Regions from separate parts of the Homo sapiens genome. Here regions 1, 3 and 4 are each linked to region 2. The links come from fine-mapping of genetic effects on gene expression. A gene starts in region 2. Each other region holds a variant in brackets. All regions are shown on one strand. Distances are from middle to middle. Region 1 has its middle 41 kb from the start of CCDC70. Region 2 holds the start of TMEM272 (transmembrane protein 272). Region 3 overlaps TMEM272 (transmembrane protein 272). Region 4 overlaps TMEM272 (transmembrane protein 272).

The links.
Region 1: its variant is fine-mapped to the expression of TMEM272 in whole blood (INTERVAL, PIP above 0.99).
Region 3: its variant is fine-mapped to the expression of TMEM272 in whole blood (TOPMed, PIP above 0.99). The same link has a PIP of 0.9 or more in Th17 cells, blood mononuclear cells, naive CD4 T cells and naive CD8 T cells.
Region 4: its variant is fine-mapped to the expression of TMEM272 in Th1 cells (Schmiedel 2018, PIP 0.94).

Annotation. Positions count from the first base shown.
Region 1 is chr13:51,899,216-51,907,410 of GRCh38, forward strand. It overlaps a transcript of TMEM272 not described here. Among named protein-coding and RNA genes, the nearest start is that of CCDC70, 41 kb to the left of the region's middle. The variant C/A (reference allele first, on the strand shown) is at 3,723.
Region 2 is chr13:51,841,374-51,849,568 of GRCh38, forward strand. TMEM272 (transmembrane protein 272) reads right to left here and starts at 3,804. Exons shown (of 5, transcript NM_001351003.2): 1 at 3,643-3,804. RefSeq lists an enhancer at 7,805-8,195.
Region 3 is chr13:51,808,420-51,816,614 of GRCh38, forward strand. It overlaps TMEM272 (transmembrane protein 272), which reads right to left. Exons shown (of 5, transcript NM_001351003.2): 5 at 4,928-8,195. It overlaps LOC107984561 (a long non-coding RNA gene), which reads left to right. Exons shown (of 2, transcript XR_007063805.1): 2 at 4,738-5,413. Among named protein-coding and RNA genes, the nearest start is that of DHRS12, 8.4 kb to the left of the region's middle. The variant C/T (reference allele first, on the strand shown) is at 3,570.
Region 4 is chr13:51,818,187-51,826,381 of GRCh38, forward strand. TMEM272 (transmembrane protein 272) reads right to left here. Exons shown (of 5, transcript NM_001351003.2): 4 at 3,869-3,951. Among named protein-coding and RNA genes, the nearest start is that of DHRS12, 18 kb to the left of the region's middle. The variant AGCAAAAAAAAAAAAAGC/A (reference allele first, on the strand shown) is at 3,501.

The DNA.
Region 1 (8,195 bases), 58 kb after region 2:
CGATGAATAATCTGAAGATGAAATCAAGGAAACAATTTACAATAGCATCTAGAAGAAAAAATACTTGAGATAAACAACATAGGTGCAAGGCTTCATAATCACACTGTATCCCATAAATATATACAGTTATTATGTGTCAATTAAAAACAGTAATAAAAGCCAGAAAAGGGTATAGCGACTGAAAGGTTTTTCCAGTGTACTTCTAATCAGCAACATTTGGCACTTGCAAAGAAAATGCAAGTCTTATACACTAAAAATTGTAAGATATCATGAAAGAAATTAAAGAAGGCCTAAATAAGTGGAAAGACATGCCATGTTCATGAATCAGAAGACTTAAGTATTAAGACGGCAATATTTCCCAAATTGATGAACAGATTCAACACTATCCTCTCAAAAATGTCATCTGGCTTCTATGTAGAAATTGACAAACTGACCCTAAAGTTAATATAAAAATGCAAGGGATCCAGAATAGCCGAAACAATCTTACAACAAAACTGGGGGACTCAAGTTTCTCTATTTCAGATCTTAATGCAAAGCTATAGTAATTAAGACCGCATGGCACTAGAAAAGGCTAGACATGTAGCTTAATGGAATAGAACTACATTTTTATTAAATTATGAATAGAAATAAATCTTTACTTTTATGGACAATTGATTTAGACAAGCCTAGGCAATCATATGGGAGATGAACAGTCTTTTCAATAAGTGGTGCTGGGACAACTGGATATTCACCTATAAAAGAATGAAGTTGGACTCCTATTACAAACCACATACAAAAATTAACTCAATATGGGTCATAGTCTTACATGCAAGAGTTAAAACTATGGAACTCTTAGGAGAAAACCTGGGAATAAATCTTTATACCTTGAATTAGGCAATGGTTTCTTAGACACTGAAATCACAGGCAAAAAAAGAAAAAAAATGTAAATCGGACTTCTTCAAAATAAAAATCTTTTGTGGTTTAAAGCACATAATCAAGAAAGTGAAAAGACAGCCACAAAATGGGAGAAGATACTTGCAAGTCACAGATCTGATAAGGGACTGGAGTCCAGAATAAATTAACTCTTACAAATCAACAAAAAAAGGACAACCCAATTTAAAAATAAGCAAATGAGTTAAATAGACATTTCTCCAAAGAGGATATACAAATGACCATGGAAAGATGCTCAACACTAATCATCAAGGAAATACAAATCAAAACCACAATGACATACCACTTCATATGCACTGAAATAAAAAAGACAGACAATAACAGTGTTGGTGAAGATGTGGAGAAATTGGAACTCTCATGCATCATTGATGGGATCAGAAAAAAGATGCAGCCCATGTGTCAGTTCTTCAATGTTAATGTAAAGATACAGTTACCATAATAGCCTAGCAATTCCACTCCCAGGTGTCTCTCCAAGAGAAATGAAATATAAGTCCACACAAAGACTTGTATGCAAATGTTCATGTCAGCATTATTCATAGTAGCCAAAAAAAAATGGAAACAACCCAAGTATCCATCAACGAATGAGTGGACAAACAAAATGTGATATATCCATAAAATGGATTATTATCCAGCAATAAAAATGAATGATGTATTACTGATACATGCTACAACACAGGTGAACTTTTAAATCATTATGCTAAGTATAAGAAGCCAGACACAAAAAGCCACACGTTTTATGGTTCCATTTATAGGAAATGCTCAGAATAGACAATTCTGTAGAGACAAAAAGTAGATACAAGGTTGCCAGGAAAGAGAAAGGCATGACTCCTAATGAGTACAGAGTTTTGTGGGAGAGAAGGGTGGTGAAAATGTTCTAAAATGTTAAAGTGGTGATGGTTGCACAATTCTATGAATATACCAAAAACCACTGAATTATAAACTTTAGAGGGGTGACATCTATGACGTGAATTATATCTCAATAAAACTTTTCTTTTTTTTTCAAGTGAGGCCCAGCCTTCTCATATTTGTGATGTTAATGTCCACACAACCTCATCTGTACTCACAAAATTGTGAAGGAAGAGAACCTGGGTCCACACACACTTTAATGAAGCACGGTTCCTGAGTGTGGCTGCATCTGGTCCAGCTAGAAAGTTGTGCCTGGCATTTGACCTGCTAAAAAGCCAAGTTCCACATGGTCTAGAGTTCAATGCAGAAATATCCCTGGTACATATAAAGAAACCACTCCTGCTAGAGGGGTGGCGCCCGGTGGAGCTGCCTGTGCCCCACCCGCCCTCCCATGCCTCACACCCCTCTCAGTTGTCAGTTGCCCCTGGAACAGGTACTTCTGGAAATTCATATAGCCAAGGAAAGTCAAAAATGAAGAAGAATCCAACAAAAACACAGAAATACATCAGTTGACTTGGGTCAATGGCATTACTAACTACCCCCGGAGAAGCCTGGACACATCTTCAGTGTCTCTATTTTCCTTTCTGCCCTCCCCCAGTGCCCACTCCATCCCAAGTCCCTTTACAAAGCTCTGTGACAGTGGCTCTCCTAAGTATCTAGAATCTACCTGCTCTCCTAAGGCTCACTGCCTCCCCGAGTTCAGGCTTTATCAGCCTCCTCCCACAAACACGTAGCCTCCTCCCTGCTTTCCCTACCTCCAGCCCAGCCTAGCTACAATCCTCTGGGCAGAAGCCCCATTGGGTGTGTTTACATTCCAAATTTGTGCAGAAAATCCACATAGCTTCATTGGGTTACCCAGTCCAGAGCAAAAACGCCAGGCCTTTCTCACTCTGTCATCCAAGCTCAAAATCCAAGAGAGGAGAGTTTCAAGGAGGAGGAGCTTGGGAAGTTATCCACTGGGGTCAAGCTCCATGGAAAGGTCATGTAATAAAAAAACTGAAAAGAATCACTTGGGATGTGGTATCAGGGGGGTTACTGCAGACCTCTGGAGAAGCCATTTCAGGGGTGAGGTCAGAAGCCAACGTGCATTGGATGAAAGAATAAATATAGGTGGATTCTCAGTTTTGTAAGATGTAAAAATCAAGAGAAGCAAAATGAAAAAAAGCACTGATGTTGAAGACAGTTTCCCAGTTGCCTTGTTACATTTTCAGTGTGGGACTGAAGGGGTGGTAGGCATTACTTCAACAGAATCACAACACATTTTGCCCTTCTCACGGCCTGGCGCCTGGAAAAGCTTTGGGAATTATTAGCTGCTGCTATTGATGTTGAGGGCACCCACATGCCTTTAGAACCAGAATCTAAAATGTTCAGCCTCTCAATGTCTAAAATGAACTGCTGCAATGTTGCAGATTTAAAAATTAGAGGAAAGTTATTTTATTAAATACATTTTAGAATATAGGTTTTATAGAAAGTATGTTATCATAGCTACTCTAGAAGCTGAACTTGGGAGAGTCCCATGGTTAGAGGGACTGAGCATTCTGCCAACAACCAGCCCCACCTTGCCAGCCAGGCCAGTGAGCCACCCCAGAAGCAAGGCCACCTGCCTCAGTCAAGCCTGCAGGTCACTTGCAGCCCTGATGGACAGTCTGTGGGCAACCTCCTGAGAAACCCAAACGGGAACCATTCTGCTAAGCTGCTCCCAAATCTCTGACACACACAGACTGTGAAATAACAAATATTCATTGTCCGTTTAAGGCACTAAGTTTTGGAGTAATTTATTTTGAGAAACAGATAACTAACACAGCCCTGACAGCAATTGGTTATTGGCTATGTGATGCCGAGGGAGTGGATAACTTCCTAGCATGGTGGCTTCTGCTCTGCAAGGG[C/A]AATTCTTCAGGAAGCAGGTGGCTGCGGTGAGCAATACTCAAAGCTGGGAGATGAGTGCATCCGCCTGGTAAAGGGGCCCTGGGCAAGGCACCAATAGCATCCACTGGGGGTGTTGATTATAATCTAGTACCTAAATATAGTTTTGGTTTTGACAGGTCAGTTTGTACACAAACACAATTGTGGAAATATTTTGCATTTCTTTTGAAGGTCTCACCTCCTTAGTGTGTGTATCCAGGAGGTACACAACTAGAACTGGATGCACGAGGCAGCAGCAGTGGGAAGCAGCAAGGTGATCTAGAGACACTTTATTTATTACTCACTAAGTCCCAAAAAGTGCTTGCAAATATAGAAAGTGCAGGTAGAGATGATCAATAATAACTAACTATAGTGTCTTCCCTTCATTGCCATTGAGGTCTTGGTTTCCAATAAGACACTTCATAACTCATTCCTAAGCATGCTGTTGGAAATGGGAGGGAGGGAGAGGTGGCACACCAACGAGGTCAGGGAGGGAAGAGAGACTCTACGTCAGATGACGATGTCTCAGTTGTCACTTCAGGTTCTGGCTGCTCTCTCCACTGTACAAGGAAAGCCACCAAATAGAGGGCAAACTGCTCCCCCTACTCTCCCCAGAACACCCCTTTTTCCTATCCCTAGGTGTAAGTGCAGGAGACCCTGAGCATCTAATGGAGTCAGATGCTAAGTTAAACACCCAGAAGTCCCGGTTTCTATGGGGCCAGAGGAAAAGGCAGAGTGCTATTTCCAGACTTCAGTGGCAACCGAAAAATGAAAAAGACTCGTGTGGGTGTGGGGCAAAGGCTGCCCCAGAATGCCCAAACTTTAGCTTCAATAAACCTATCATAGCCATAATGAGGCAGTGCTGGGGCAGAAAAGAGAACCATATAGGGTCTTCTGCTCTGGCAGAATCATACCTGGTTGTGCAACCAAAGTGTCTTCTCACACCTGCCTCCTATGACACCATTTGGGTTTCTCCAACAGTCTTCCACGTGTGTGTGTGTGTGTGTGTGTGTGTGTGTTTAGAAAGAAGCATCTGGTCACCAGAAACTCAAAGGCCAATAACTCTTAACAAAAATACATTCACACTGGACAAGTGAACACTCAATCTAACACACAGCACCTGTGGCCCTGGGATGCTAGGCATGAGGTGGTTTTCTGCAGTGCTGCTTCTCATTCACCATCAGCATCAGAATCAGCATGAGCTTAATGACTGCTTGTTGCCTGCTTTGCAGTGATGATGACAATGATGGTAATATTAATGATGATGATGATGATGATGTTAATGAGCCCATGGACCAGATTTAGTGCTGCTGCCTATTTTGAAATTAAGAAATACATGATGACAGAAACTGAATTCAGGTAGCACTGGGCTAAAGGCAGATGACTGATGACTGCTTGGTGGCTAGCTTATATGCAATTCTTATGATGACCCTAAGGTAATTGTTGTTGATGATGATGATAATGATAATTGATGATCATGATCATGATGAGTCAGATCTGGGAAAACATCACCTGGCCTTCAGCAGCTAATGCATAGTAGTAATGAATAATTTTCTCTGGGCTTGAATAGGAATTCATGGTATGGACGTGGAAAAGAAGGAGGCTCTAGATCAAAAGAGAAAAGATAAGCATGGTCCGTTTTCAAGATATTGTGAAAAGTACAGGTTGAGCAATCCAAAAATCTGAAATGCTCAAAATTCTGCAACTTTTTGAGTATCAATATGATGCTCAAAGGTCATGCTCAAAGGAAATGCTCATTGGAGCATTTTAGATTTTAGATTTTCAGTTTGGGAATGCTCAACCAGCAAATATAATGCAAATATTCCAAAATCCTAAATCTAAAACACTTCTGGCTCCAAGCATTTCAATTAAGAAACATTCATTCTGTACTGATGTGGAGGCTGAAAACCTTGAATTTTATTTACCAGGTAGGGGAACATCATCATTAGTAGTGTTTCTTAACCTCATTAGTACTGACATTTTGGAATAGATAATTGCTGTGGGAGTCTGTTCTGTGTGCTGTGGGGTGTTTAACAGCATCCCTGCCCTCCAACCACTTGACGCCAGTAGCACACCTCCAGTAGTTACTGTGTAAAATATCTGTGGACATTACCAAATGCTCCTGGGGGAGGTCAAAAGCACCCTCGTTGAGAAGCATTGAGCTAAGAGAAACAGCAGACAACACGAAGCAGTCAACAGAGAACGGCCCTAAGCAGGAGAAGAAATGTCAGGCTGAAGGCAGTTCGTGCAGGGAGAGAGACTGTCCTCCCTCTTCCAGAGAAAAGAGCTGTCACGACACTGGACGAGGGCCCAGAGGCAGGACTTCAGAGCAACAACCTCAGAGAGCCATGATTCCAGAGCAGTCTCAGTGCCTGCTGTCACCACCTCGGACACGGCAGGTCCCACTCACCTCGGCTAGAGCTGCACCTGACTCACCCAGTCAGGGAGATGCCACTGTCTTCCTGAGGCCCTCTCATTTGGAGAGCACCTTCTTCAGAGCAACCCAAGGGAAGCCGGAGTTCCTCTTCAGCAGGGCTTTGAGATGCTTTCTAGCATGCCAGGTCCCTCCCTTCACAAAGGAAACACCCAGAGAGCAGGGAGGCAAGGGGCAAGCCCTCCCTCGCAGCGGCGCGGTCGACCCAAGCAGGAAGTGGAATCCTGCAGGGAAGCTGCCCAGAGCCCCTCTGCCTGCCACAGGTCCCTGTAAAAATGGTAGAATAAGTGCTAGGAAATGCAAATTGTAATCAAGGGCCATGCGACACTTAAAAAACTACACCTTGGTTTCCAAAGAAACAGAATGCTATTATGAGAGGCTCTGCCTCATTAGCCTCGGTTAATGTCAGCGTGTGTCTGAGGACAATGCCCCATGGTTCTATGATGGAGAGCAACTCAGCTGTGATGCCGCCTTCTCTTCTTCAATCGGATTGAGAATGAAGGCTTCACCTGTGGCTCTGAAGCAGACAGGTAGGAGTCTCACTGAGACACCTAGACGCAGAACAAATGACTCACCAGGATGAAGCTCCACCACTGCACAGCAGAGGAACGTGCACTGTACCCAGTGATGACTTGGGGCTCGGGCTCTGGGAGCCAGTGTGGCTCCTTACAGGCTGTGTGTTCTGGAGGGACTGAAATCTTCTCCTAGCAAATGGTGGACCAGGCTGGGGTCCCTGGAGCAAAGAGCAGCATGCAGGGCTGGGCTGTACCTGGGCATGTCAGTACCCCCTGCAAAGGTTAACTTAGCCCGCTAAGGGGACTCCCTGAGGCATCTAATTCAAAGGGTGAAATAATCTATTGAGTGCAGCCACACAGAATGAGCAGTTATGGGGGAGAGAAGGGATTCACTGAAACAGGGCAGGCTTTGTAGGGCTCCCATAGCTCCACCCTTGGGCCCAGGGCAACTCCTAGGGCCCCAAGCCAATTTTGAGCCCCCAGCAAGACAGGGAGCCCCTAGAGCTTCAGTATTCTCATATGAAAAACTAGGATAATGAGGCCTAACCACAGGTGACTGTGAGAACAAGGAAGAACATATGAGAAAGTGCTTCATGGGCCCTAAAGTGGGGAGTAAATGTTGGTTGTTATTGGCCTAATTGCATATGCTTTACAAATGGTACTTTCATTGTAATAAAGCATCTGCATTTCTACAGGAGAAGTTCTAGAGTTATTTTAACTCCTGATAAGAAAATAATATGTCCATGAGAGACCCTGACCCTGAGGCATTCAAACAGTTTGCAAACAGGCCTGGGCTCCCTGCCAGCACAGGCAGGCACTCCCCGGGATCCCAGGCCCTAGGGCAGTTTCAGAGACAGCAACCCAAAGCCATGCCAACTCTCCTCTAGAAGTACAAACAGTCCCTGCAGGCTCCTGGACAAACATCCAACTGACCCTTGATGCTGGGGACCAACAGTGAAAGGGAAGCTATACCCTGACTCCACATTAGCAAAGACGAATGAGCTGGAACTCACTTCTTTCTGCTCTTCCTATGTGATCTGGTCTGTTCAGAAACGCCTTTGCAGTGCTCTGAAGCCACATCTTCTGTAGCAGGTTGTTTGCAAAAACAACTGCAATGACCCTCCCCTCCCACATGGTTAATGTTCCTCTCCTCCCAACGTGAGCAGGGATCTGGGGTGCATCTGTGACTTGCTTTGACCCATGGGATGCAGCAGAAGTGATGTTGCATAACTTCCAAGCTGAGGCTTTACGTGGCCTTGTGGCTTCTGCTGTCTTGAACGGCCTTTGACATCCCCTAAGGGAGCTCACTCTAGAGCCCTTCATGAGAGGCCACATGAAGACAGAGGCTCTGATACCATATTAACCATGTCTTTTTATGTATTCTGACACTTCAACATCTAGGGCCTTGCTGACCTTGGCAGGTCTGTCCCTCCCAGGGTTAGCCAATTCCTAGAGACAGTAAACAACTTGCCCTTGAGCGTGCTTTTCACACACAAACTAACCAGTCG
Region 2 (8,195 bases):
AAACTTCCTTTGAAATGTGTTGAACGGTTTCTATCAGCGCCTACAAACTAAGACATTCCAGTCTTCAAATCCACAGCAGCTTTGCAGAAACTAACGAGATGGGTCTGTGTCACATTATAACAAGACATTTCTACCTTGGGCCATTCCCTGGGGTAAGAGGTCACGCTTTAATCTCCTGTGAATCCTGAAGAACAATGTTTCACCACAAAAAGTAATAGAGCTGCATATACATTTTTTAATGCAAATGTCCTAAATTGGCTGATCCCTTTAGCCACTAACTGCAAATAAGGTAGAAACATCAATTTGAAAAACAGTGATATCTTTATTGATAATATCAGACCACAAGAGGTGGCAGCCAATAGAACACACCAACACAAGTCGCAGGTATTAGATCCATTTTATAAATGAGGAGACTCTTATTCTTTCAAGCTTGTTATTTTCATAAACTGGCAAGATGGATGAGAACTAAAAAAAGAATGATGTGCTGTGAATTCTGTCACGCCTTAAAGAATGTTCCCTAAGAGACAGGTAGCAGTGGCAGTAGAACTCAGCTTTGGCATCCAGCCCGAAAGGGAAGACAGAATTCCCAGGTACAGTCTCAAATGCTGGCCGACAAACTTTGCATATTGTGTTCAACTTCCCTTACAAGGAATAAAATGTTAAACACACACACACACACATCATATGACCTCGTGCATGTAATAATGTCTGTAGATCTACGTAAACACATAGAAAAAGATCAGCAGCATAAACACTAAACCACTGTGAATAACTGTTCCCTATGAAGGCAGGTACAGGGATATGGGGCCACTGGGGCTGGGGTAGGGGTAGGGAGGAATGTGCCGCAGGCAGGCGTGGGTAGTATTTTCATTTCCACTTTATACCCAAATATTGCCTTGCCTTTTCCCCCATTAGCAGGTTTTACCATTATAATTTTAAACTTCTTTTTAAAACCTCTTAAAATTCAAGAAGTATTATTTGAAATGAAAAGTAGTTTGCTTTCCAAAAGTCCAGAGATTTTTAAAAAGTAGCATGTAGGAGATAGATAAGCAGAAAAGGAGTAAGTCCACCAGGGAGCAGACACAAAAAGAAGAGAGATGATGTGATGGTGGTAGGCAAGATTTTTCTCTTTTGGAATACTTTCTTTAAAAATTACAAAAGCGAATTCACAGAAAAATTAGATCAAGGAGAAAAGAAAATCATTAGTCATTATAAACAACTGCAGAACTTCCAGCCCAACTGTTAGTATTTTGGAGCTTTTAAGTATATGCATATATACATATGCATATGTGCATGTACACACATTTTACATGGTTGCAATAATCAGGCACATTAAGTGAACACATCACATTTTGACATAAGCATTCTTTCTGTTACCATTTGGTCTTCAGAACTCTCATTTTCACAGCTGAATTATATTTCACAGAGTACGCTATATCAAACTATATTTCTCTATATCTTCTTGTTGGATATTTACTTTTCACTCAAGTAATCCTAAGAGACATTTCTCTCCATGAAAAGTGCTTTGTTTCATGCACACGTAGATCTCTTGGAATAGTTATGTAATTAAAAAGCATAAGCAACTTTTTGGATTTGAGGTAAAATTGACTTATAAATGAGCTGTATCCATTTCCAGTGCCACCAGCAATATGAGAGTGGCAGTTTCACCACACCTAACCAGCACTGGGTGGCTGAAAGACTAATGCATTTTTATTACTCTCATAGGCAAAAGTGGAAATTAATTATTTTAATTTACATTTTTGATTGCCAGTGATATTTTGCCAATTCTTTCTAGGCTTATTTCCCAGTTGTATGTTCCCCCTTGTGATTTGGTTTTTATGACCCAAGATATGGATTTATTTCAATTCAGAGGAAGCCCACAAAGAAAGCTGCAATTTGAGAAAATAGCAGTGAATCTGCTTTTTGATTCACAGAATTCACTGTGTGAATTTGCAGATTCAAATACACTACAAAAGACCTATTCACTATTATGGTGGGGACTTGAACAACTCACAAAAAACTGCACGTTCCTTGGAGCCCTTTGAAGCGGCAGCTCTTCCAAAAGAGGGTCCCTCAACAGCAAGAGATGCCCAATAGAGCAAATACATACTAATGATGGATTCATGTCAATGCAATCCATTAAATGATTGACTAAAATCTGTAATGACACAGATTTTAGTCAATTTCTATACCTTCTATATCTTCTACTAAGAAAACGTACATTTTTTCTTATTTGATAGAAAGTTTTCTTATTTGTTAGAAATCTGAAACAGGAAGAGATTGGGGTAACAGGCCGGGCAGTGCCTTCTCTCCAGTGTGAACAAACAGTGACTTACAAGTCTATCCTTGGGCATGCTGTGATAGGACTGTGTGTCTCACACCTGCCTCTGCACCTAGAAGGGCAGTGATAATAGCCCCTGCTGCTTCCTCTCCTAGCAGCTGAGTGATAATAAAGGGCACGATGGGAATTAATCAATAATAATTGCCAAATGATATGCTCAATGCATTTTCAATTTTCAGTCCAATTGATATATCTCAGTGGTTCTCAACCAGAGGTGATCTGATCCCCAAGGCACATTTGGCAATATGTGGAGACATTTTTAATAGTCATGGCTGGAGCAGGGCTGTCGATAAAGAGACCAGAGATACTGAAAAACATCCTCCAAGGAGCAGGGCAGTCCCCAACAACACTTATCTGCTCCAAAATGTCAATAGGACTAGGTCTGAGAAACTTTCTATGTCTGTCTAACATTCCCAGTTTTAGAGTTCAAATTTGTAAAATTCTACTTTTGTTAACCTCTGAGTTGTGTCATGAATCAACAGTAAACATATATATATGTATATATATGTGTGTATGTGTAGACACACACACATATATATATATGATTGTGTTTTTACTGATTGGCTTGGTAAATTAAACTATTTATTCCTAAATCAGCTGTGAGGACCAACTCACTCTTGGTTTTGAATAACATTGAATATTAGACATTAACCATCCCCATACCTGTTCCTTCAAAGCAGATGTTAACTAGTATTGTTGAATATTTTCAACAAACATTTCGGGTGCTCAGGACACAGTCCTTTCTTATCTGTAGCTCTCTGTGTAACCTGTGCTGTTTTCTCTCCTAACCATGCCCGAATGCATGAATTCAGTGGAGGTTATCGCATACCTACTGTGTCTCAGAGTCATTCCACAACCTCCCTAGGATGCCTTCATTGTTTGGCTCCTAGGAAATGAAAAATGCACTTCCTTTGAGCTCTACCACCCCTTTAAAATGACCAAGTCAAAGCCACTTGCTCACAGCCCCAATAGGTAAGACATGGAGGTGATGCCTGTGGTCCCCACTCGCTGTCCTGCAGCCGGTAGGTTGTTTCTAAGAGTCCCACACAACTTGCCTTCGCCCTGCAGTTAATTATTCCTTTACGATTGTTCTCTTCTCCAGAAAACCCATCTCCCTTAGACTCAGTGAAGATTGTTTTCGTTCCCTCCACACAATTAAGAAAAGCACTTCCACAATGTAGTCATTTTCTTTCCAGGAAGCATAATCAGCACATTGGCATCTTCCTAAGAATGATTTCAAGAAACCCTCTGCTAGGACTGTCTCTCCAACTTCACAGGCTGCCCAGGGTTGCCGGACTCACCTGAGCTAAGCAGAGTGGGATCCAGAATCGGGCAGCACTCAGCACCTCTGTGGTCCCGAAGTCCAGGGCTGCCTCTGTGGGGCTCCTCTTGACTTGGGGCTCCCACTCCCTGTCGCACGCTTTCTTTCTCCCTTTCTCTCCTGCAGCACAACAGCAACTCGTGGCTTTTCCTCTAAGGGGCGGGTTCTCTCCATTTCCCACTCCCACGTGTGGGGAGAGCAGCCCCACCGCCGGCTCATACCCCTGCAGTGTTCCCCAGGCCCGCAGGGGGGCAGCAGAGCGACCCTGGGAGCTGTGGAAACATGGCCGACCCCTTGGAGTTAGGAATTCCCGCGGGAAACATTTCATTTCAGTCCCTTAGGCACTAAACCTAGGGACTTAGTTCTGGTGCGAGCCCCTTCTCACCCCTTGCCCTCCCTGCATGTTGGTGGCACACGAGAAAGGGTGGACCGAACAGCGGCTGCTTAGGAAAGAGTGTGAAGGTACTCAAAGTGGGCTGAGGTAATGAGAGGTGCCCTATGGACTTCAGGACTGCCACGTAGAAAAGGGATTAAATTGATTCCGAGTCATTGCAGACGGCCAGATCTGAGATAGAATGAAGTTACAAGAAGGCTGAATTGTGCCCCATGTCATAAACTTTGTAACAGTGGCCTTCTTAGACCTGAAGCAGGCTGCTTTGTGAGGCTGTTGTGTGTCTGTATTGTAAGCAAGCACCTAGCAGTAGAAGTTCTCAGCTGCTGATTTATAAGAAGTGCCAGAGATTCTTTATTGAAATGCAGATTCCTGTACCACCTCCCAAAGATTCTCAATCTGTAGGTCTGGGCCTGGGCCCAGGAATCTGCAGTTTAGACTCTGCTAAGTCTCCTGTAGGTGCTCCATGGACCACACTTAGAGAAACTGGCGTCACATGACTTAAAGGCATTCTCCAACCCTGACATTCCAGGTTTTTTGTTGTCATTTCGGTGGAAAAGGCCAGTCTACTGGGGAGGGACTGGGGGAGGGACTGGTGTGAGGCAAGAGAAGAGCCTATTATGTAAAATGCAAGGAGCTGCTCCCTCTGAAGCTACCCCTGCATTGCACACCCCTGGGAGGAGGGCACCTCTCCGGGCTCACTCTAGGGCTGGCCCTGCCACTCTCCCAGTCCTGAATCCAAGGTGACCACTTCACACCACAGGACAGGGTGAAGCAGAGGAGCAAGGGGAGGAGAGCCTGCTAGAGGAAAGGACATACAGTCACAGTCATGAGCCACATAACAATGTTTCAGTCAATGATGGACCACACAGATGGTGGTTCCTTAAGATTATAATGGAACTAAAAAATTCCTATCACCTAGTGATGTCATAGCAGTCATAATGTTGTAGTGCAACACATTACTGATGTGTTTGTGGTGATGTTGGTGTAAACAAACCTACTGCACTGCCAATCACATAAAAGTAAAGTACATACAATTATGTACAGCACATGATACTTTACAGTAATAAAAAACAACGAAGTCACTGCTTTATGTATTTATACTATACTTTTTATCATTATTTTAGAGTGTACTCCTTTACTTATATATATTAAAAAAAGGTTAACTGTAAAAATGCCTCAGGCAGGTCTTTCAGGAGGTATCCAGAAGAAGGCATTGTTATCATAGGAGATGACAGCTCCTGCCTGTTATTGCCCCTGAAGAACTTCCAGTGGGACAAGATGTGGAGATGGAAGATAGTGATATTGATGATCCTGACCCTGTGTAGGCCTAGGCTAATGTAATGTATGTATAATGTATGGGCTAATGTATGAGTCAAAATTAAAAAAAATTATAAAGTAAAAAAGTTACAGTAAGCTAAGGTTACTTTATTATTAAAGAAAAATATTTTTAATAAATGTAGTGTAGCCTAAGTGTACAGTGTTTATGAAGGCTATAGTAGTGTGTAGTAATGTCTTAGGCTTTCACATTCACTAATCACTCACTCACTGACTCATCCAGAGCAACTTCCAGTCCTGCAAGCTCCATTCATGGTAAATGCCCTATACAGGTGCACCATTTTTTAATCCTTCATATCCTATTTTTACTGTACACAATGTTTAGATACACAAATACTATGTGTAGTATTTTCTACGTTTAGATACACAAATACTTACCACAGTGTTACAACTGCCTACATTATTCAATACAGTAACATGCCATGGTCTCTGGCCTTTTGGGAACAGTACTGGTCCCTAGCCTTTTAGGAACCGGGCCCCACAGCAGGAGATGAGTGGCAGGTGAGCAATCATTACCACCTGAGCTCCACTTCCTGTCAGATCAGCAACGGCATTTGATTCTCACAGGGGCACAAATCCTTCGTGAACTGTGCATGCCAGAAATCTAGGTTGCACACTCCTTATGAGAATCTAATGCCTGATGATCTGAGGTTGAACGGTTTCATGCCAAAACCTTCCCCATCCCCACCCTCATGAAACTGGTCTCCGGTGCCAAAAAGATTGGGGACCACTGGGTGTGTAGTAGGCTATACTATGTGAGTTTGTGTGAATACATTCTATGACCTTCACACAATGGCAAAATTGCCGAATGTCACATTTCTCAGAACATATACCCATGGTTCAGTGATACATGACGGTACTTGAATCTTCTCTTATCTCACACTGAGTGAGTGGAAGCAGAGTGACTGTGAGCAGTGAGGTCAGAGTCTTAAGGCTTCCCTGCCAAAGTGGTGGGGGTCTGGGAGCACACGGTGACCATAAGCCTGGCCTGGACGTGGCCAAAAAGGGGCAGCAGTCTTTTTTGAGCACATTTTAGCCCTGACATCAAAACAAACAAAATTTCAGGTGATGAGGCAGTCTTCCTGGGAGTTCAGGAAGGGAGAAAACAATGGCAGGTCACTCAGGAGCTTTTCCACATGTCCCCAAACATGCAGCAAAACATCAAAGAATATTTTTCTGCCAACAGACAACTGTACTTATGAGTACAGAAATAGGAGATTTTTGTGGGGGAGAAAGTAGGAGTCTTTGGAAAGTGATTATGAGACTCCAAAGGTAATGATAAATGATAGTAATAATAGCTCTATCAGTTAAGAAAAACGGGGAATCTGATATGGGGAATTAGTTACAAGAGCCACGGAAGAGCTGAAAAGTCATGCACGATGTCGTGGTGGAGTAACCCAGAGATTAGCAACTGACAGTGGAAGCAGTTGCTAACCCTAGAGATGTGAGTGGAAGACCACCACTGGAAATGCTGCCCAAAGCAAAGTAGGTGCGATTAATACCCCCACTTCACAGATGAGTAGCATAAGGTACAGAGATTAAAGGCATATGGCTACTAAGTGTGTAATGAACTTCAATTCAGGCCACGTGATAGAGTCCACATATGGCACCACTCCACTATTGCCATATGAATAAAGGGCACATTAGGGGAGATGATAGTAGAATTGAGTGAAAGTTGAATTCAGAGTATAAATTTTTAAATGCTTGTCTTTAGTTGAGGTGGTTCTCCTCATAAAAGTGAGTTCATTCATTCATTGAATGAATACTGCTGACTCCAAGCCAGATACTGTGAATAAAAAGATTACTTAATAAAATCCATGTATCCTATAAGGAATTTTGATGCAAAAGAGTAGTGAGTGAATGAGCACGTGCCTGAGTTTAATTACAAAGGCAACTGTGAGTTAATGAGGGTAGGCCTGACTTCTTGATGGAAGCTGTAGAAATGAAGGGAGATGCTAAAGTTGCCCAAAGACCAGGTTGTGCACCTCCAAAAGGAGCAATCAGAAAGCCAAGGGACACTGATGAGTGTTCACTCTCACTCTTCCCCAAGATTGCACAAAAGTTTGTCTTTGTCTTCGTCTTTGCTTGTGTGTTATTCCCCAACAAATTAGTTCTATGTAAACATCCTAATTCTTTTCATGCTTTCTTTGGAAGTTTTCCATTCTGATGTCACTCTTCTATTTGAGTCACCGTTTCTATATTTACCATCTATTCATCCTGACGGCTTCCTAATTTGGGAGAAAACCTTCAGGGTCCCTCACTTCGACTTCTACCTGAGTCAAAAAGCATTTCAATATAAGTTTTCATTTTCCTTTTGACTTTTCCCAGCATTTTAATTTTCCTGAGGACAATTTAAGAAAAAGAGAAACAGAATGCATGGTCCCACAACTAGTTCACAGTCAGGAAGAAGAAGAGTTAAATGACAGGCACCCCTGACCCATGCTGCAAACTTGAGGCCATTATGCTAAGAAATAAGCCAGCCACAGAAAGGCGAATGCTGTATGACTCCACTCACGTGAGGCACACAGAATAGTCATAGACATGGAAGTAGACTGGTGGTCACCAGGGGCTGGAGGAAGGGGAGCACGGGGAGCTGCTGTTTAAGGGATGTGGCATTTCAGTTTTGCAAGATGAAAAAGATTGGTTGCACAACAATGTGAATATTCTTAACACTACTGAGCTGTACATTTTTCAGTGGTTAAGATGTTGAGTTTTATGTTATGTGTATTTTAGCACAGTTTAATAAGCAAACAAACTCCTGGATCTGAGAAGCTGGGGGAGTCAAGGCCTAACATTCTAAGGGC
Region 3 (8,195 bases), 33 kb before region 2:
TGACAGGGTAGCTTATAATTCCCACAGTTTTTTCTACCAGGATTCCTCCCACTCCCAAACCCCTAAGCCAGTGGCACTCAGAGCTGGATGCTGAGCACTGCAGTCACTAAGAGTGAGACTGGGTTTGCAGCCTGGCCCTGCATATGCAGACAATGACCAAATGACCCCGCACTGGCCAGCTATTTAATATTGAGCGACTGTGGAGGCTTGGGAGGACTGAGGAATACATTACTTATTTTTATTTTTGACTATGGTAAAATACACACAACATAAAATTTACCATTTTAACCATTTTTAAGTGTACAGTTCAATATTAAGTACATTTACATTGCCGCGCAACGATCCATCTTCAGAACTTTTTCATCTTATTAAACTGAAACTCTGTATCCATTAAACAAGAACTCCTCATTGCCCCCTTCCCCAGCCCCTGGTAACCACCATTCTACTTTCTATCCCTATGAATTTGACTACTCTAGGGACCTCATCTAAGTAGAATCACACTTTGCCTTTTTGTGGATGGCTCATTTCAGTTAGCAACATGTCCTCCAGGTTCATCCATGTTGTAGCAAGTTTCAGAATTTCCTTCTTTTTTAGGGCTGCATAGTGTTCCATTGTGTGTATAAACCACATTTTGTTTATCCATTCATCCATAGATGGACACTTGGATTGCTTCAATTTCTTGGCTATTGTGAATAATATTAATATGAACATTGGTGTGCAAATACCTCTTTAAGACTCTGATTTCAGTTCTTTTGTGTGTATACCCAGAAGTGGAATTGCTGGGTGATATGGCAATTTTATTTTTAATTTTGGGGGGACCTTCCCTACTGTTTTCCATAGCTGCTGTGCCACGTTATGTTCCCACCAGTATTGCACAAGGGCTCCGGCTCACCGCATTCTTACCAACTTGTTATCTTCAGAGTTCGTTCCTTTTTTTATTTAATGGCATCCATCCTGATGCGTATGAGATTGCACCTCATTGTGGTACATTATTAATTTTTGTTATGTAACAACATACATTTTATACCTTCTGCAATATTCAGGTGTTGCTTCCGTCTTGTATCTGTTGCCGAATATATCTCAGTTGTAGGTATTCACACAATCACACGATATTGGAAGGATAGTTTGGTCCTTAAGTAGGTGGCTTTGATTTTTTTTTTTTTGAGACGGAGTCTTGCTCTGTCGCCCAGGCTGGAGTGCAGTGGCGTGATCTCGGTTCACTGCAAGCTACGCCTCCCGGGTTCACGCCATTCTCCTGCCTCAGCCTCCCGAGTAGCTGGGACTACCGGTGCCCACCACCACGCCTGACCAATTTTTTATACTTTTAAGTTAGCCAGGATCGTCTCCATCTCCTGACCTCGTAATCCGCCTGCCTCGGCCTCCCAAAGTGCTGGGATTTTTTAATGGTTTCCTTGGTGATGGTGGGATTTTGTTGACTCTCACACTCCTGGGGAACATAGAGAATAGCATCCACCCTAATCAACCTCTCTCCTCTCAGGAGCTCGATGAGTCGTCGCGTCCAGGTGAGTCTCCCTCAGGTGCATCATGTGCCTAATCCAAAGGCCCTGCAACGAACTTCCCTAGGAGCCCAGTTCAGCCAGGGGCCTACTTAGGTACACGACAGGAGGAATGGCAAACAGTTTCTCAAACTGACCTCTCAGCTGTTCATTTGTCAAAATACAGTTTCACATTACTGCTTTTCCCATTTTGATTCACAGAAATGAGAGACCAGGCAAGTTACAGAGGATGAGCCTCTTAAAATAAGTCCTATGAATACATATTAGTCGTGTTTGAGGCAGAGCTCTGCGCTGGTAATGGAAAGAAATCCATGATCCAGGAAATAGAAAAATGCAGCTTGTCAAATAATATGAATAGTCTGACATAATTTTTTTTTCTTTTCTTTTTTTTTTTGAGACGGAGTCTCGCTCTGTTGCCCAGGCTGGAGTGCAGTGGTGCCATCTCGGCTCACTGCAACCTCCGCCTCCCGGGTTCAGGCGATTCTCCTGCCTCAGCCTCCCAAGTAGCTGGGACTACAGGCACACGCCACCACACCCAGCTAATTTTTGTATTTTTAGTAGAGACAGGGTTTCACCATGTTAGCCAGGATGGTCTCAATCTCCCGACCTCGTGATCCGCCCACCTTGGCCTACCTAAATGCTGGGATTACAGGCATGAGCCACCACGCCCAGCCTAGTCCGACATAATGTAGGTAAAAAGTACCTATATTTATGCTTAACGATACATAGACATATTCCAAAAGGATACTACAGAATTAACACTGGGTACCTTTTTGGGGACCGGGAGTTGGGGGGGTGCTTCAAATCTTTTACTTTTTACCTCATACTCGTTTACACGATTTGAATCTCTAGCCATAGCATGTATCACTTTTATAATAAAAATAAAGCTTTAAAATTGTCATTTTAGGAAAATAAAAAGGGTTGTAAAAGGGGATATACTAGTAATTTATGTCATGCCTCCAGCTGTGGAGAAATAACCCTGGCTTAGGCCGGCTTCCCTGGAAGCAGAGTCTGAGATGAAGCTCTGGGATAAGGGATGTGTTGAGGGTGTGGCCTTGGGAGAAACGAACTAGGGTAAGGGAGGAAGCACTGGGGAAAGGGAAGCGCTGGGAAAGGATGTGGCTTTCCACGAAGCCCTGCTTTCACCTGATCCCGCGGGCAGCTCTGGTGCATAAATGCCTCAAGTTTGACCTGCCCTGAAACAAGGGAGTTGGGCTTTTCCTCCCTCTTCCCCGACTCAGCCCTTAGCTATGGCTGTCGGTGGGGTGAACTGGGAGCGGGGAGAACTCTCAGGCTCCAGCTGGCTCCAGTCAACCAAGGCGGCCCCCACAAAAGGGTGCAGGTGTGCGCCATTAGCGCCAGCACCTGCTGCTGGGGGCGGGAGGGGACGCTGGGCTGCCAGAAGGGATCCCAGGGGAATCTGGGCTTCAACCCCTTTCCCCAGTGACTTGGGAATCGAACCCAAACTGGCTTCCTTATAAACAAATGTATAAACTGTAAATTGATGTAGGAAATGTTTTTCTTTTCTGTTTTCTTTTTGATGGCTATGGGAAGGTACAGGCTACAGGACATTGTATTAAATAGCAGCTTAAATACTCAAAAAAAGATATAAAGAGTAAAAAACATCAGTTTGCAAGAGTCCGATCAGACAGCAAGACTTTTGCAGTGGTGGGAAAATCACTGGAAGGCTGGAGAAGAGGATGTGCCAGCCTGCTCTCAGGAAGCAGGCGGCGAGGGTTCTGATCTGGCTACTGTTAGTGGTCAAGAAGACTTTTTTATTTTTTTCACTTCCTTGGCAATGTATATCTCACCACTGATTATATCTCCCTTCCGGCATTGAGAAGTTGAGGAAATTCAAAGACAGATTTGAACCCAGGACTAGATAACCCAGAGAATAAGGCCAAAGAAAGGCAGGGGTGGCTCTAGGAGGCTGTATTCTAAGGCCTACAATTCTCTGGGCTGCCTTGACATCTCTGAGCCTCACAGAGGCCCAAGGGCTTAACTGTGAGTTCCTCTGTGAGTTCCCCTGCCCTCACCAGGCATGCCCCTGAC[C/T]CAGCAGGCAAGGTCTCCCACCTGACCAGTACCCTGTCAGTCACCACCACTCACCCAGCCACCAACCTAATGGGTTTCCCCTCACTGCCCGTCTGTGAAATTACTCAAGCAAGACAGGAAACTCCTCCCATGGGAACACAGGGTTACCTGGTCCTCTTGCTACTACAAGGCATGACCCCCACGGCCCCTGCCGGTCCACTCTGTTCCCAAGTGCAAGCCCCATGTGGCCCTGCATAACATGCTGTGTCCTCCTCCCCCAGGCAGTGAGTCTAGTGACTAATAAGCTGCTGTCCATCACATCTGTCCAGTGGGGGAAGGGTTGCATTTGGGCTTCTCCCACTATTTAGGACAGGGACCCCTCCCTCACCAATAGGGTAAGTAGGAAGTAATCAGAACAGAGGGACGTTTTGAGTCACAAGCCTTTTTGGGAACATGCTGTATGTGCAAACTCTTAATACCAGCAGCAAGTCCCAGTTGCTTTTCCTTTGCCTATGAAGCAGAGCTTACTTCTCTGAACAATGCAGTAAGTTTTAAAAGCTGACCAGTATAACAAAGGAAGTGTCTTAGAGAAAACAACAGGGCTGGGTGAGGTGGCTAATGCCTGTAATCTGCGCACTTTGGGAGGCTGAGGCAAGAGGACTGCTTGAGGCTAGGAGTTTGAGACCAGCCTGGGCAACATAGTGAGACCCCCATCTCTTAAAAAAAAAACCCCACAAAAAACAAAAAACCAACCAACCAAAAAAACCTGACTGGGCACGGTGGCATGCCTATAGTCCCAGCTACTCAAGAAGCTGAGGTAAGAAAATTACCCCAGTCCAGGAGTTCAAGGCTGCAGTGGGCTTTGATTGTACCACTGGACTCCAGCCTGAGTGACAGAGCAAGACCCCATCTCTTAAAAAAGAGAGAGAGAAAACAACAGATGTATTTGGAAACACTCTTCTCTTATTTCTCTTCTGCTTGCAATGGCAAAATGCTGTCTCCTGGGATATCCAAGATAACGTAGCTGCTGTGATGCTAGGCTAACCTGAAAAGTGAACTACTGAAATTCTAGCTCTAGAAAAGACAGACTAGTTGTCTTATTAGTTCTATACTTATAAAAGATAAATTATCACTAGGATTACTAAGAAGAATTTTCTGTTAGATCATTTTTCTCAATTCTCCACTACAGACTCATCTACTCACCTGAGGATTATGAGGATTATGAGTTTTATGGAGCAAAATTTGCCTAGAACAGGTTGTCAGCTTCTGTGGACACAGTCTTCTACCCTCAGAAATCCCATTGGAAGAAAGAACAAATGAAGCATCCCAAGGACTGGAGGATTCTCTTCCCCCAGGGTATTCAAGGAAGACACTGGGGAACAAATTGAACAAAGTTTATTTCATCAACAATGAAAAATGCCCAGAAGGAAATGAAGCACAAGATTCAGTTACACAAAGATGAAAGCTATTGACCACTTGGCCACTTCTCATACTAAAAGAGAAGGAAATAACACGAAGTACTGGAAGTGACATTATATTGTCCTCATGGTGACAACCAGGATGGGCCTGACATAAGCCAGTCCAGGCTGTATGTGTGGCCCGAGTGCACACATGCGGTTTCTCTGGCCACCGAATCAGAACCAGCTGGGCCCCACAAGTCAGTCTCTGGGGGCTGTGATTCTGCATTGCAAACAAGTCCTTGGGTAGCTCTCAGGGTTCACCAAGATTTGAGAACCACTAGTGTGGCTGACTCCAGTGAAACAGTCCCACTTTTACTGCTTTCAACTGTCATTTATATAGATTCAGGCAAAGAATGGTTTTTAGAATGATGCCCGATGTAGCAAATAAAATGATCTCAACATATAGTTTATCTTTGCTGCAGTCTTTTCTCAGATGGGAAGAACAGATTATCCCTCTCTGCCACATAATTTGTTCCCTTGAGGTTTCATAGCATCCAGAAAGTTCAGGTGTTCCCATGTCCACTTCCCATTGCCTTGCCAGGTTCCCATGGAGGAAGGCTGCCCAGCTCTTGGGCCAGTCTTAGATGGGCATTTTCATTCTCCAGGTATACACAGCACATTTCATATCAGTGTGGACTGCCTACTTCAGGCCATGCCAAGGATTATAACTTCTTCTATAACCAGGAACTTCTTACACTCACCTCCAGCTCAGTGAAATTATACTAAGAGGTGATCACTTAAAGGGCACGCAGCTCAGCCCTTCCTAGACAGTCTGGGTGTCATCCCTGGATTAAGCCAGACTTCAAAGAACCACAGTTATAGACCATTTGCCTTACTTAGCCCCAGAGCCTCTTTCTTGAAATGTGCCTTATCATAACCATCTCACCATCTCCTGAGGGAGGCCTTAATCAGTTATCATTCAAAGCCTGCTGCGCTTGAAGATGTCACCCACTGAACCATTCAGTGTCCCCTCTATGAATGGATGCACATGAACATTTTCTTTAGGATCTAACCTGTTTCCCCAGAAGGGGGTAATTTTGTTTTTTAGAGATGGGGTCTCATTCTGTCACCCAGAGTAGAGTGCAGTGGTGCAATCATAGCTCACTGTAACCTCAAACCAGGGAAGATGTATGACCTATACAAAGAGATCATCACCTCTTCCTTACTGCTTTGGTGACAAGAAAACTCAAAGCTAAAAATATAGTCCAGATTTTAGCAATTATTTAGGACCTATGACCAGTATTCTCCATTGCAACTGGGGGTGGGCTGGTGGGGTGCATATGAGAATGAGCACACTTCATCCACCACTCCCTCTGGGAAAGATTTCTGCAACACTCTGGTGATACTCATGCCTACCAGAAACTGGGAATGTCCAACGTTTGAGACCTAGCTACTGATGTATCCAAAGCACTAACCAGTACCTGCCATCTGCTAACAGAAATCTTCATGCCCATGGTTGTTCACAGCTCTTTCCGCCTTTGCCAAGGCCCTCGCAACAGAAGCCTCAGAGGCTTTCATGTGGGAGTCATGCAGGTGTCCCTGGGCCCAGGTCTTTGCTGCTCACAGATGTCCAAGCATTGGCTAAGTGACTGGGAATGGCTGACGAGTCATGGACTGGGGAAAGGAGGGTGGGAGAGGAGCCCATGGAACTCCTGTCCACCCCAGTATCATAGCCCACAGACTCTCCCCAGTCCCCAACACAGAGAGGGCAACGTGGGACACAGTGAGGATGGAATTGGGCATCATAGGTGAGGTAGGATCTGCAAACTGCACACCCGCTGGTCTTCTGCCATGGCTCAAGTGAAAATGAAAACAGAAACTGCCCTTAGGGACAGGGGCAAAAAAAGGGCTGTTCTTCCTTTGTCCAGCAGATGGCACACCAAGCACTTTCTTCTCACCTGGGAGGAAAGGGGGACTAACGGTGACTGCCCGGGGAGTGCTTCTAAACTGAAATGGGAAGACCCCATGGGACTCACGGGGCCTTTCTCTTAAAGCTACGGAGAAGAATGAGCCTCTTGGTTTGAGCTGACACTTCTGATGAAGGGAGGTGCCTCCATTCATGGCCACTCAGGGATTGGTTTGATGAGAAAGCACGAAAACATAACAAAGTTAAAAAATAAACACAGCTCAGCAGTGTGTAAATATACAGAAATGCTATGCACGTGGCTGAGAGAAGCACGGTTAAGCAGGTGCCACGCACCCCTGGGCACTGCCCTAGAAACACTCATGACAGTATCTTCATACAAAATTCTAAAACATGGGACTTTTTGCTCATAAAGAGGCTCCCCAGCGAGCACTGACAACAGACCTGGACTTCATCTCTCAACAGCGGCAGCCAGAGGGAAGGTTAGTGGTCACTGTTCGGTGTCATCCTGGACTTCCAGACATCTCAATTTACAAAAGGCTTCCAAAGCCTAACTGGTCATTAGGTTGAGGAGCTATTATTCGATATTTAAGCTCAGAAACCAAAAACAGCTACACTGACGGCACCCCAACTCATGCAACCTGTCCAGAAACATACAAAACTGGTTTATGCCACCCAGCCAGCCGCAGATCATAGAGAGGTACTTGAATAGCCAGAGGCAGAGACAGACTCAAGGCCAAGCAAAGAACCTGCAGCAGCGGCACACGGTGCACACGGCGCTGCACTCCGCAATGCCTGTAGCAGGCCAGCCCGCCCCCTATGTGGAAGCTACTGCTTTGACGTTGTTAGATTTTATAGCTGACCTTGGGATGTTCCACCCATCACGTCAAACCTATCTGATATAGGGCTGGAAGAGACTGCTCCTTCACTTTCCCAAAAGGCAGCTAGAGTCACTAAAAGAATATCTTTTTCCTTTTAATAACAAAAGCCATCATAGCGAGTGAAGTTAAGATATATCTTGTGTGAAAGTCTGTGCACTTTCTATAACTTCAAGGTGACCATGGCTGAATGACAGCAGCAGTAGCAACAACCAACCTTGCTCTTGCACCAGTCATTGAAATTGCACTATGATTTGAAAAGGTCTCCCATTCTTTGCCTCCCACACTTCATACCCTCAAAAACAATTATCCCTTTGAAAACTCTTGTGAGAACAAAATTCCCACTCTGAAAAGAGCAGAAGTGATTTCCCCATGTCTAGGAAGGCAAGAGTTTCTTTAGTCTGCTATTATATTCAGTGCCTTTGGGTGGCTTTTTAAATGCCTT
Region 4 (8,195 bases), 23 kb before region 2:
ACTGGCAGAGGCGGGGAGAGATGCTGAGCTTGAGTGAAATGGAAGGGCAAGCAGGAGCCAAGAGATGCAGCTAACTGGGCTCCAAACTGTAAAGAGAAGCAAGGATAAAATAAAGAGAGACAGAGAGATGGGAACAGCGAACCCCAAGCTGTGCCTTGGGTAGGTGATAACTCCAGATTTGGACTTGTTCCATTTAAAATTTTGGATGGAAATGCAGGGTCTAGTGGCCCACAGGGGGCAGAGTCAGAGCCTGGAGGTGAACAGAGAGAGGTGAGGACTCCTGGCAGAGATCTGGGGGTTACCCGTGAGGAGGTGATAGTGACTCTGGGAATGGATGTTGTACAAAAATAGACCCTGGTGCTGGGCAAAGCGCTTGACATACATTATCTCAATGAATTCTCCCAGCCTGAGGCTAGAGGTACTAAATAAACATGGGCGCAGGACCAAAACTGGAGCCATTGGGCCAAAATGTCAACAGCAATTTTCTCTGGGTGGTGAAATTTACAGATGATTTTGATTTTCTTCTTTGTGCTTATCTGCATTCTCTGATTTTCCAAAATGGAGAGTTATTACTTATGTAAAGATACAAAACCTAAGGAGAGTGGTTAGTTTAATGCTTGGTATGTGTGATCTTTAATGTCCATCCTAGCCTGGGGCCGCGTATTATCTCTGTTGCCCAAATGAGGAAACTAAGGCTCAGAGAAGTTAAGTCACTTCACTGAGATCCACAGTGAGTAAGAGAATGAGAAGGGCAGTGGTCCACACCTCTTTGACCACTGTCTACACCACAGTACACTGATGATTAAATCGGAGGAAATTAAATTGGAGGGTTCTCGCCTAAGACTTGCAGCCCGGCTGGGAGGCAGAACATCTCCATAAGAAAAGGAAAGTGAGGCCTTGGGGGAGTTCAGAGAGCCACCCACAGTAGAGCTGACTCATCCAGGGAGGGCTGCCTGGAAGAAGGGGCATACTTGGGACCCCTATGCACAAGGAGAGGTGCGAGGGTCCTCCTCTGAGGGGGAGTGGTGTGGCAAAGGTGAAGGGTGGTGGGTTTAGGGTAGGGGAAAAACCAATTGCCTGTAGTAGGTTGGCTGACGGTGGCTGTGTGGTTGGGAAAGCCCAGGCTGAACACCAGCTCGCTGTTTCCTCACTGTAAGCTGGAACTGAGAGTCCAGCTCAAGTTTCCATCACTCAGATGCATTTCCCTTCCTTGCAGGGCCCCATTCCTTGGAGGAATTCCCCCACCCACCACGTGTCCCCAGATCTGGCTGCCCTCCCAGGACTGGTTCTTGGCTACAATGATGCCAGGAGAAAGGAACCAGCCCAAGGAAAGAGCCGTGGCAAGTGGGTCCCACTGCCCAGGCTTCCTGGAGCCACCTGGCCCCCTTCTCTCCCACTAACCTTTGAGGTTGTGAGCTCTTCCAATCAATGACCTCTTAAGTTAGCCAGAGTTGATTTTTTGTTCCTTGTAGTCAAAGAATCCTTCCTGAAGCAAGTACCTGCCTCAAAGGGGCACGGTGAGGACTGAATGAATTCCAAATGAGGGCAGAGCCGTCAGCATGGCATCAGCAAAAAGCACATGCTTACTAGGGGTAGCAATTGCCACTAGGAAGGGTGATGTGGGAAGATGAGGGGGAGTGCAGGGTAGGCAATGGTCACTGAATCCGTCTTTTGGAAACTGTCTTTTAACATGACCCTCAGTAACAAATACATTTTATGCCAGGTCCTAGTCACTGGGTAACTGCATGTCCTTGTTGGCTTAGAGAAGTCCTGGTTTATGCTGTTGCTCTGGCAGGATGATTATTAGAGCCCCCTTGTACTCTCAAAAGTGTCCCAGTTAGGATGATAAATTACACGGTCAACTCACCCAAACACACACATGTCCATATGTAAGTATCACACAATACTTAACTTACTAGGCACTCTAATTTTCTATTTTATTTTTTAAAAAGCAGGTCACACACAGCCTACTTAATTCATTTCCTGATCTTTTAATGGGGCATGACCCTCAGTTCTTTCTGGTAGCTCCATGAAATGTCAGCTCACATCTCTTCAAGTTTCTCTTCATAGAATGCAATACTGTGAAGCTATCTGATGCATTTCACGAAGGATGTTGGGACCCCCTAGGCAGGTTCTGAGGTTGAATACAAACCATCATTATCACAGGCAAACTTCTGCCTCTGGGGACTCTAATCCTGTTTGCCGCTGCTCTAATGGTTATGGACTCACTGTATATTACCTTGCCATCATGAGCACAAAAATTTAATTTGGCTTCAAACGGTTTTAGATTGCCAGGGCAAAAAATCAATGCTGCTTATTAGGGCCTTAGTTTGTTCACTAAAATAAATTACCTTTGGGTCCTGGGCTGGCTTTCAGAAAGGAAAAGTTTGCTGTTTTTAAGAGGAACAGACCCCACGGACAGTAGCATCTCTAAAGGAAAGTTCTGCTGGGCAGCTTGACGATGAGTGAGAACAGGAGAGGCAGAGGTAATTACTGCTGAAAACGCTGCCCTTGTTTTAAGCATCTCTATGGCACTCAAACCGTTAGAGCCTTCCCTTAACACTGTGGGGGCCATGGGGAAAATGTGGCCCCGCTGAGCCAAGAGCCTTTGGGTTTTCTTGGAGCTGAACAGAGTCCCAGGTAGATCCCATGGGGATGTTGTGATGGGGATGATTGTGTGTACTTGTACATTTTAGGACACTGCCCACCAGATTGCTGTTAGGAGATGGGGACATTTAACAGTGAGGTTACCTCAAACACAAAAGCCTCCTAAGGTTTGCCCCAAATCAGACGTCTCCCACGACAGAGTTGAGCTTGTGGCTACCAATTGCATATGAGAACAGCAATTTTCAAGACGTTCCTTTGATGTCTTAGATCAACAGCATGACCAGCGCCACTGGCCAGGATCTCTCCAAGGATCCCCGCACCAGAAGGCAGCTGGCAAAGAAACCCAACACTGGGTCCGAATGAGAGTTCATACTTGGCACTCTTGACTCAGTTTTCTCTTGTGTTACGGCTTTGTTTTTATGAAACCATCTTGGGAAAATGGATGCTTGTGTTTTCTGGCTTTGATATAGAAAGTGGTGAGGTGGGCTTGGAAGACTGGGAAGAGTTGTTGATAGACAGAGGCTGACCTAAGCTTCTCTTGGTAGGTGTAACATTTCTGTGGGCCAGGGATCTTGAAAACAATTGCAGGCTATGCACGCCCCTGATATTTCTTCTTCAGTTGCTTTTTCTGTTTAAACAAATGTCAATACAGCCCAGGAGCAGATTAACTACATAACCTTGAGAGTCACAGAGAAGCACTCCTACCTCAGGCATAAGAATACTTTAATAGTTGATTGATAACTGCAGCCAATTAATCCTATGTTAGTCAATTGAGAACTAGGAAGTATAGTTAAAAGCAGAAATAGGAACTGCTAAATCAAACATATTTTAACCAAATGCAAACCCTGCCTTCAACAGGAAGCTTTTTTTTCCTCAAAAAAAAAAAAAAAAAA[AGCAAAAAAAAAAAAAGC/A]AGCAGCAGCAGCAGCGCAGAGAAAGACCATGATTTCACTGGCTGAATTCAATGGTATAACTGGCAGTCAGGGACTCCTCTGCATCAACTCTTGTCAGACCAAAGCCACAGCTTAGCACATTGAACTCAACAGCAGGAAGGAAGCTCTTGCAAATATGCACAGCCCTGGGTAAATGCCCTGCATCTGGAAAAATCTGTGTCTCTGGAGCTAGCCCCATCACTTCAGCAACCACGCTTAGGGGGAAGTTGTTTTGTCTCCCCTGTGAATAGCAGGCAAATAACAGGTGCATTACAGGATGCCTGTGAGTTAATTTCTACAAGGACTACAAACAGCAGATAAAGATACTTTACCTTTAAGGTACCGACGATGCCACCCACTAGCAAATATAAAGGAATGAGGGGCTGTATAGGGCAGTCCTCCAAAAATTTCATTCCTACATAGGGCAAACAGAAGAGGATTGAGAGAAATACATTCGAGAGCACAAAGCCCAGTTTTGAAAATGAGTGGAACACCTTCAAAAGCCAAAATGTTAATCATGCAAACCATATGCTTGTGGGATCTGCTCAGCCTCACCAGTCACCTGATCCTCAGGAAGCTCAGTGGATTGACACCGCAGAAATGGCTCTCACAGCGGAGTGGCGATAAATACTCCCGCAGACAGGGCAGGGACCAGGTGTCGCTGCACCTTTTTTCTGGGTATTAACTGGCTATGGGTTGCACTCTGCCTTTCTGAATAGCCAGTGTATGAGAACTCAAGTTTTCAAGGATTCAGGATTCAAAGGATCCCTTTAAATATACGGTTTTCTTGATATGCTTAAAATAAGGTTCAATTTATGAGTCACATTTCCAAAATGTGACTCTGCGTGAATGAGGTTCTCATCTACTCTGCTTCCAGGGGCCAGGTGGCAGGGAGGAGCCGCTCTTCCTCCCTGTGCAGCAAGCCCTCTGCCGTGTTAGTCACAGTCACCATATGATAACCATTGACCATGCCACTCGCTGGACCCCATGCTGGGAAACACGCGTGTACTCACATATCCTTAGCTACCAGATACAGAGTACTACCAAGCCAGCCTACCCAGTCTACCCTTTCTTAATGGTAGTTTTTCTCCCCAAAGCAATGCTCTGTCTACTTTTCTCAGGTCTTTGTTCCCTAGACCTATTAACCAATGATATGATGTGTCTATTTAACATATAAAGAAGAAATGCCCATTTCCCTCAGGGACCAGTCTGGCTCAAACAACCAAGCTCCAGATGAATTCTAACACACACCTTTGCTATGGGAGACACTGACTGCCCAGCATGTGCCCTTGTTGGGTAGCAAGGCAGTGTGACCAGTTCTGACCAGTGGGCTGTGGGACACCTTGGGGCCAAAGCATTTATTTTTTTTGAGACAGAGTCTTGCTCTGTTGCCCAGGCTGGAGTGCAGTAGCATGATTCAGTCACAACTCACTGCAGCCTCAACCTCCCAGGCTCAAGCGATTCTCCCACCTCAGCCTCCTGAGTATCTGGGATCACAGGGATGTGCCACTATGCACAGCTAATTCTTTTTTTCTTGTAGAGAAGAAGGACTCACTATGTTGCCCAGCTTGTTCTCAAACTCCTGGGCTCAAGTGATCCTCCTGCCTGGGCCTCCCAAAGCGTGGGATTACAGGCCTGAGCCACTGTGCCCAGCCCAGGCCAAAGCATTTAAAAACTGATACATGATTCGTTGTTTGCTTCCTCTGCTTTGACCACCTGGAAACCATGGGTGGAGATGGATTGTTCTCAAGATTGAAGCAGACTGGACTATTATGTCATCACATTGCCTGAGAAGTCCCCATGCCCCCTGAGCCATGATGGAATTTGCGTAAGCAAGAAATAAACTCTTACAGTGTTAAGCCACTGGGATTCCAGGGTTAATTTGTGGCTGTAGCACAGTTAAGTTACCCTGACTAACACATCTGTCAACAGAGTCCAAGAAAGGGAATTCTTACTGTAGAACCAAAGCCTCCTGTTTAAATGACATTTAGACTTTTAGCTTTGATTTGGAATTTTATTCCCTATAAATGCCTTGATACTTAAGCAGAGGGAGTAAACTGTTTTTCTATGACTACACCATATTCCATTGAAATGAACAAAATTTTCTAGGTATACAGAGAGCCATAAATTCAGGGCCCAAAACAGAGTTTAGTCAAATATACACGTTGATCCAATCATCAACCTATGGAGGCTTGTCTTTTAGTTATCTCTGATGTTTAGGTGAATTTGTTATTAAATGGAAATACTTTCCAAGTCTCAACACAGCCTTTTCACACAAAGACCTTTAAGTACTTGGTGCCAAATTTGTTGGACATGGACTGCCTTTCAATTCAAAAGCCAGCTGTGAAATGAACATTGAGTAATGGCTTAGATATCTGCTCATTCCCAATGAATAAAAACAGCTGCTGTTCACAGGAGAGTCAATCAGTGCACAGATGGCTTAAAACGATCCTAATAAATTTAATAAAAGCCATCTTTCCCCCTGTGTTCTCATGTACTTCTTAGGACCTACCTTAACTCTAGATTTTCTTTCTTGTCTGATCTGCAGTATCACGATTATTCTTTTTGGTTTTAGATCTCTCCCTAGTTCAGTTGATAACAACTACCAAATGTAGTGATTTTTAAAATATTTGTTATTGTGATAAAATATCTCAACAAAAATTGCCATTTTAACCATATTTAAGTGTACAATTCATCGGCATAATTACATGCATCATCTTGTGCAACCATCACCACTATCTATTTCCAAAATGTTTTCATCACCCCAAACACAAACTCTATAACCAATATTGCTCTAGAAGCAATAACACCTCCAAAACCCTCTTTCCGCAGTGGATGTGGTGATTTTAATATAATATCCATGGGAATTGGCTTGTGGGGTCTTGTCTCTTTTATGCAGCCTTATTGGTGGATGAATTGTTGCAGTTAAGTTCATTTGAAAGATAACTGGCTGGGCGCGGTGGCTCATGCCTGTCATCCCAGCGCTTTGGGAGGCCGAGGCGGGCAGATCACTTGAGGTCAGGAGTTCAAGACCAGCCTGGCCAACGTGGTGAAACCCTGTCTCTACTAAAAATATATAAATTAGCCAGGCATGGTGGTGGGCGCCTGTAATCCCAGCTACTAAGGAGGCTGAGGCACAAGAATCACTTGAGCCGGGTAGGCAGAGGGTGCGGTGAGCCGAGATCGCTCCACTGCACTCCGGCCTGGGCGACAGAGTGAGACCCTGTCTCAAAAGAAAGCAAAAAGAAAGGTAACTAACCACAGGGTCCAAAGGCTAGGGTTCTCTTACCTTACAGATTTTGCATAGAATGCCCTCTGGAGAGTACCCCCGACTTCATAAGCAGGGCATGCCTAACATCTTGTGAACTCTTCTTGGAAGAACAGAGCCATATAATAAGTGTTAATTTTTGAATTGCACTGTAATAATCACAGCACCAGGGCCTGCTGAAGTGATTGAATTGTTCACTCTTACACTAAATGGCCCCAGACTACTTGGCTGTTTCAGTTCTCTGCAAACCTTAAAATCTTATCTTCTTTTTTATTTCCTGTCAGGCTGTTAGCTTTCATGTCTTACAGATCTAAGGATACTGTTTTTGTTTCCATTTTTAGTATTGTGGCTTTAGCAGGGGTGGCAGGGTGAAACTTACATAACAAAAGAAACCATTCTAAAGTGAATAATTCAGTGGCATTTAGTGGATTCACAGTGTTGTGCAACTACCACCTCCATCTAGTTCGAAAACATTTTCATCACCTCAAAAGGAAGGCTCCTACCCATTAAGCAATTAGGGTACTGGGTGTTTCGTTGTTGCTGTTTTGCAACAACTCCTATGCTCTTTTACTTTCTGCTCCAATATGCTGTGAGCTTGGACCTAGAACACTGGGCCTGCTGAGCTGCTTCTTTTTTGTTTTTGTGTTTTTTTTTTTTTTTGGAGACAGGGTCTCAGTCCTGTTGCCCAGGCTGGAGGTATAGTGGCACGATCATCCCACCTCAGTCCCCCGAGTAGCTGGGACTACAGGCACACGCAACCACACCCAGCTAATTTTTAAGTCAAGACTTGCATTTTTTGGTAGAGACAAGGTCTCACTATGTTGCCCAGGCTAGTCTCAAACTCCTGGGCTCAAGCAATCGGCCCGCCTCAGCCCCACTAACTGCTGGGATTACAGGCGTGAGCCACCATGCCCAGCCATGCTGGGCTTCTAGGTAAATAGGGGTAGCTAGGTCCTGTACACAGGGCTCCCATTAGCAATGTTCAGGAGCATGAGATTAATTTCACTGACACGTGATAACAATTTTTAGCTACTTAAGGAGCTTCCCCCATCCTGCCCCTCCCCTGACCTTCGCTAGACCTCACACTTCTGGATTATGAGGTTGTTTAATATACGTGATTTATGGAAATATTTACTCATTCATTCAGCAAAAAAAAAAAAAAAAAAATGTATAGAGTGCCCATACATCACCTAACGCCAGGTGCATTTTTTGTATTGCTTGCAACCTGCTTCCACAAGGGAACATAGGAACTGGGAAGGGACTTTGGGAAACCTCTAGCCCAGTCACTTCCAAACTTGGGCTGGAGGGATCAGAATCATCTGGGGACAGATTTCTAAAAGAGAGTGTCTGTCCCCACCCAGATATACTGCACTGATATCTCCCAGGGCGGG